2 linked regions of the Homo sapiens genome follow. The protein of the gene in region 2 purifies or fractionates together with the protein of the main gene of each other region. This does not show direct contact. Each region holds a gene or a part of one and is shown on either strand. Other genes may lie near its edges. The genes, in order: SPECC1L and IRAK1BP1.

The links.
Region 1: the proteins of IRAK1BP1 (region 2) and SPECC1L purify together in Homo sapiens (affinity purification with mass spectrometry; one large-scale study listed by BioGRID and IntAct). This does not show direct contact.

What each region holds. Positions count from the first base shown.
Region 1 is NC_000022.11:24,315,700-24,319,524, reverse strand, and holds part of SPECC1L (cytospin-A), read right to left. Parts: intron 1-3,825. UniProt on the Homo sapiens protein: Involved in cytokinesis and spindle organization. May play a role in actin cytoskeleton organization and microtubule stabilization and hence required for proper cell adhesion and migration.
Region 2 is NC_000006.12:78,898,424-78,901,274, reverse strand, and holds part of IRAK1BP1 (interleukin-1 receptor-associated kinase 1-binding protein 1), read right to left. Parts: 3' UTR 1-2,851. UniProt on the Homo sapiens protein: Component of the IRAK1-dependent TNFRSF1A signaling pathway that leads to NF-kappa-B activation and is required for cell survival. Acts by enhancing RELA transcriptional activity.

The sequences.
Region 1 (3,825 bases), on a different chromosome or scaffold from region 2:
TCTAGAGGATACTGATATGGTTTGGCTGTGTCCCCACCCAAATCTCATCTTGAACTGTAGTTCCCATAATCCCTATGTGTTTCGGGAGGGACCTGTTGGGAGGTAATTTAATCATGGAAGCAGTTACCCTCACGCTGTTCTCGTGATAGTGAGTTCTCATGACAGCCGATGGTAAGGGGCTTCCCCTTTGCTTGGCTCTCATTCTCCTCCTTCCTGCCACTATGTGGAGAAGAATGTGCCTGCTACCCCTTCCACCATAATTCTAAGTTTCCAGAGGCCTCCCCATCTCTGTGGACCTGTGAGTAAATTAAACCTCTTTTCTTTATGAATTACTCAGTCTGGGGCAGTTCTTTACAGCAGCATGAGAATGGACTAATACAGATTCTAAGTGGAATACATAAGGAAGAAAGCAGAGCAGCAGAGGAGGAATGTGGGCAGGTAGATCAATGAGGTAAAAGAGGTCCCACATTCAGGGGCGGCAGTAAGAACAGAGAAGAGGCAAGAAATCTGTGACAGATATCAAAGGCAAGAGTAACCAGACTGGGATAAACAACTGTATACGGAGGCCAAAAATGGAAAAAGATGGCATAACTTTTTTTTTTTTTTTGAGGCTCTGTCACCCAGGCTAGAGTGCAGTTGTGCCATCACAGCTCACGGCAACTCTACCTCCCAGGCTCAGGTGATCCTCCCACCTCAGCCACCCGAGTAGCTAGGACTACAAGCACACGCCACCATACCCAGCTAATTTTTGTATTTTTTGTAGAGACGGGGTTTCACCACATTGGGCATGTTGCCCAAGCTGGTCTTGAACTCCTAGGCTCAAGTGATCTGCCCACCTTGGCCTCCTAAAGTGCTGGGATTACAGGCGTGCACCATCGCACCTGGCTGGGGTAACTTTTTTCCCCAACATTAATTCCTTTCCCTAGTTCTGCAAGTGGTACCACATCCTTATCTAAATCAAAAATCCTTATAAAAAAGAAAATCTGGCTCTCCCTCTCCCCTCTCCCCTCTTTCCACGGTCTCCCTCTGATGCCGAGCCGAAGCTGGACTGTACTGCTGCCATCTCGGCTCACTGCAACCTCCCTGCCTGATTCTCCTGCCTCAGCCTGCCGAGTGCCTGCGATTGCAGGCGCGCGCCGCCACGCCTGACTGGTTTTCGTATTTTTTGGGTGGAGACGGGGTTTCGCTGTGTTGGCCGGGCTGGTCTCCAGCTCCTAACCGCGAGTGATCTGCCAGCCTCGGCCTCCCGAGGTGCCGGGATTGCAGACGGAGTCTCCTTCACTCATTGCTCAATGGTGCCCAGGCTGGAGTGCAGTGGCGTGATCTCGACTTGCTACAACATCCACCTCCCAGCAGCCTGCCTTGGCCTCCCAAAGTGCCGAGATTGCAGCCTCTGCCCGGCCCCACCCCGTCTGGGAAGTGAGGAGCGTCTCTGCCTGGCCGCCCATCGTCTGGGATGTGAGGAGCCCCTCTGCCTGGCTGCCCAGTCTGGAAAGTGAGGAGCGTCTCTGCCCAGCCGCCATCCCATCTAGGAAGTGAGGAGCGCCTCTTCCCGGCCGCCATCCCATCTAGGAAGTGAGGAGCGTCTCTGCCCGGCCGCCCATCATCTGAGATGTGGGGAGCGCCTCTGCCCTGTCGCCCCGTCCGGGATGTGAGGAGCGTCTCTGCCCGGCCGCACCATCTGAGAAGTGAGGAGACCCTCTGCCTGGCAACCGCCCTGTCTGAGAAGTGAGGAGCCCCTCCGCCCAGCAGCCGCCCCGTCTGAGAAGTGAGGAGCCCCTCCGCCCGGCAGCCACCCCGTCTGGGAAGTGAGGAGCATCTCTGCCGGGCAGCCACCCCGTCCAGGAGGGAGATGGGGGGGTCAGCCCCCCGCCTGGCCAGCCGCCCCGTCCGGGAGGGAGGTGGGGGGATCAGCCCCCCGCCCGGCCAGCCGCCCCGTCCGGGAGGCGAGGGGCGCCTCTGCCCGGCCGCCCCTACTGGGAAGTGAGGAGCCCCTCTGCCTGGCCAGCCGCCCCGTCCGGGAGGGAGGTGGGGGGGTCAGCCCCCTGCCCAGCCAGCCGCCCCGTCCGGGAGGTTGGGGGGTCAGCCCCCCGCCCGGCCAGCGCCCCATCTGGGAGGTGAGGGGCGCCTCTGCCCGGCCGCCCCTACTGGGAAGTGAGGAGCCCCTCTGCCCGGCCAGCCGCCCCGTCCGGGAGGGAGGTGGGGGGGGTCAGCCCCCCGCCTGGCCAGCCGCCCCGTCCGGGAGGGAGGTGGGGGGGGTCAGCCCCCCGCCCGGCCAGCCGCCCCATCCGGGAGGTGAGGGGCGCCTCTGCCCGGCCGCCCCTACTGGGAAGTGAGGAGCCCCTCTGCCCAGCCAGCCGCCCCGTCCGGGAGGGAGGTAGGGGGGTCAGCCCCCCGCCCAGCCAGCCGCCCCGTCCAGGAGGGAGGTGGGGGGGTCAGCCCCACCGCCCGGCCAGCCACCCCCTCCGGGAGGGAGGTGGGGGGGTCAGCCCCCCGCCCGGCCAGCCGCCCCGTCCAGGAGGTGAGGGGCGCCTCTGCCCGGCCGCCCCTACTGGGAAGTGAGGAGCTCCTCGGCCCGGCCAGCCGCCCCGTCTGGGAGGGAGGTTGGGGGGGTCAGCCCCCCGCCCGGCCAGCCGCCCCATCCAGGAGGTGAGGGGCGCCTCTGCCCGGCCGCCCCTACTGGGAAGTGAGGAGCCCCTCTGCCCGGCCACCACCCCGTCTGGGAGGTGTACCCAACAGCTCATTGAGAATGGGCCATGATGACAATGGTGGTTTTGTGGAATAGAAAGGGGGGAAAGGTGGGGAAAAGATTGAGAAATCGGATGGTTGCCGTGTCTGTGTAGAAAGAGGTAGACATGGGAGACTTTTAATTTTGTTCTGTACTAAGAAAAATTCTTCTGCCTTGGGATCCTGTTGATCTGTGACCTTACCCCCAACCCTGTGCTCTCTGAAACATGTGCTGTGTCCACTCAGGGTTAAATGGATTAAGGGCGGTGCAAGATGTGCTTTGTTAAACAGACGCTTGAAGGCAGCATGCTCGTTCAGAGTCATCACCACTCCCTAATCTCAAGTACCCAGGGACACAAACACTGCGGAAGGCCGCAGGGTCCTCTGCCTAGGAAAACCAGAGACCTTTGTTCACTTGTTTATCTGCTGACCTTCCCTCCACTATTGTCCTGTGACCCTGCCAAATCCCCCTCTGCGAGAAACACCCAAGAATGATCAATAAATAAATAAATAAATAAATAAAAAGAAAATCTGTTCATGTTTGAAAGATAAAAGAAGAAAAATTCTTCTCTGGATTACTGTAATGAGTAGACAGAATAATCTGAGGTAAAGACAAGTGAATTGATACATGGAAATCAAACAGTCTTAGGAAAGTCACTGGAGGAGGTAAAGGTAGAGCAGATGAACTGAAGAATAAGGATGTTGTTATAGGCTGAACTGTGCCCGCACAAAACACACAAAATTAATATGTTGAAGCCCTAACCCCAAAACCTCAAATGTGACTGCACCTGGAGACAGGATAATGAAGTTAAAGAGGTAATTAACGTAAGATGAAGTCATTAGGGTGGGCCCTAATCCAACATGACTGGCGTTCTTGTAAGAGGAGGAGATGAGGACACACACACAGAGGGAAGACACAGAGAAGGCAGCCATCTGCAAGACAAAAAAGAGATCTCAGGAGAAAGTAAATCTGCTAACACCCTCATTTCAGACTTCTGGCTTCCAGATTTGAGAAAATAAATTTCTGTGGCTTAAGCCATCCAGTCTGTGGTATTTTGTTATGACATCCCCAGCAAAATAAAATAAACGTACAAAGCC
Region 2 (2,851 bases):
CTTTACAGGATTTTTTTGTTTTTTTTGGAGACAACATCTTTAAAAGTTCCTGGAAATTCTAAAAAGTGCCTACTAACTTAAAAAAAAAATTGTCTTTAGGTATTTCATGCTAAGTTGGAAGCTTCTTTATCAAATATGATGCAACCAAATACAGCATGAACCCATAGCTAAAAAAAAAAAAACTACCCATGTGATTAAATTTTTGTTGAGAACGAACAATTTTTTTCTTGATGCACAACCTCATTCTACTTTTCTGTACAACTGGATAGTAACTTCTTTTTGGTAATAAAAATTCAACATATGTTACATTGGTTTTCTGACAACTTTATTTTCAATATGGCTATTTAAAAATTCTTCCTAATGGAGGATTTGGAAAAGCCAACTTTTAATTGAGCCAACAATAATCAAACAATGCAGCTGATATATCAGCTACTATTTTCAGAGTGACCGTTATGTGCTAGCAATTGTTCTCATGATCATATATTTATCAACTTTAATCCTTATAATAACACTGCAAGGTTAAGTACTATTAGTCTCTTTCATTTGTAAGGACAAAGGAAGATTAAAGAGATTAAAGTAACTTGCCTTTTATCCAGCTAGTAAATTTTCCCAGCAAATATTTGAGAGCATACTTGATATTGGCCCTGAGACTACCTCTGGGGCTGGGAACACAACTGTGAACAAGACAGACAAGATCTCCACTTTCAAGGAGCTTACATTCCAGTAGTAAGGTCAGGATTTGGATATAATGGTGTTGAACTCAAACTCTTCTTAGCTTCTACTCTTCCCCTACAGCAACACTCCAATAAGATGAATAAAATTGTTTCAGGGCCACTTTAAAAAGTGGGTGAAGCTGGACACTATATACTGGAATATGTTGTAAGAAAGTACTGTTGGTATATAAACATCCAGATTTATCAATGGAAAAACTCTATGACCTAGATGTATAGAGAATGGAAAGCCTATGCTGCATAACAGACATGGCTTATGATTGCCTGTAGATAAAATGTAATTCTTACTGTAGATAGCAGTAATACATACTTGCTGTTAACTTTCAAATGGCCTTAAGAATCATTATTATCTCAGTGTTTGACCTTGGTCTGTTCAGCAAGGTAGTCTCAAGCCATTTGTGGCCTTCAAGTACTTGAAATATGGCTAGTGTGACTGAGGAACTAAATTTTAAATTTTATTTAATTTTAACTAATTTAAAAACTGATACTTGATCCAGTTACAAGATTTTTTAGGCATGCTAGAACAACCTGGGTATGTGAATCTCTTTTTTTCAACTGTACATTTTAGGAAATTTAAATACAGATAAAATATTTCTGATGAAAATTTAGCATGTGAATTGAGATGTGCTATTATGTAAAAATATACACTGAATTTTGAAGATAAAACAAATATCTCAATTTAAAAAATACTGATTACATGCTGAAATAATATTTTTGATATATTTGGTTAAATAAAATGTTATTAAAATTAGTTTCAACTGTTTCTTTTTTAAAGTTTTATTTTTAAAAATGTGCGTACAGGGCCAGATGCAGTGGCTCACGCCTGTAATCCCAGCTACTTGGGAGGCTGAGGCAGGAGAATCGCTTAAATTCAGGAGGCAGAGGTTGCAGTGAGCTGAGATCGTACCACTGCACTCCAGCTTGGGCGACAGAGAAAGACTCCATCTCGAAAAAGAAAAATAAAAAAACATGTGCACTAGGAAATTTTAAATTACACATATCGTTTGCTTTGTATTTGTATCACTCTAAGGAGCCCTGTTGGAGTCCGATCCAAACATTAACTCTTTTATTTTTGGCATCAAAACATTTTCCTATTATACCTCATTATTCTTTTGTAAAAAGCTATGAATTATTTATCACTATTTCTATTCATGTTGTGAAGTTGTTAAGGTTGGGGTTGTTATCTGCATCTTACCAAAATGGTCTCTGGTCCTAGTAAAGAAACTGTTAGATGTGAGATAGCCCTCAGTAGACTTCACCTTCCTAAACATATTGCTGGGTGTGGCAAGCATGAAAGACCTTGGCTGTTCTTTACCTGGGCCATTTCTCAGTATTGAGTTTTGAGTGAGCATCTATAAGGGATGAGGCAAAGAGCAGGTTTGCTTCTGTTCATGGATAAAAAGCAGTGAACCCTCCAAGCTCAGTATTCTTTACCTACAACAAAAGCCTGCTGTATATGTAGCCATATTGCATATGGCCATATCATTTTGCCCCCATGGGACCTGGGACAAGGGGAAGCAATGAGAATGTGCTGATGCTCATGCTCCTTGTTGTGCCATGAGTAATAGTCCTTTGTTTCTGTCTGGGAATCTCAAGTCTTCTGTTAGCATCCATGAAGAAGTAACAGGGTAACTACTTAGCTTCTAACTAAAGTAAAATTAAATATCAGACCTGACAGGATGCACTTAAAATTATGTATTTATACTCATTTTTAGTTGTGGAAAATTATTAGGTTTGATGGGATATAGGAATTCTTTTCCATAAAAATTTTGTCTTACAATTTAAAAAATTTAGCTAACTTATTGAAGCCTAGTTTTTACATAAAATTTGGTTTTATATAAAAATGTGGCTGAGAAAATTTTAGCTTAAATATCTTTAAAAATTATGAAATGCAAGGGTCAATATCTGTCCTTATAATAGAAATATTACACATGTGCTTGTATGAACTGTCAGTATATAAGTATGCACATAATACATTTATTATCCAAGAGTGTTTTTCAGAGTAGTCTTTTAAAAATAGAAAGTGAACATAAGTATTCTGTGGGACTATATTCAAAGATTTATAGATTTTGGAAAGAAATAGCTTATCTCCTATACCATATATATATATATATATATAT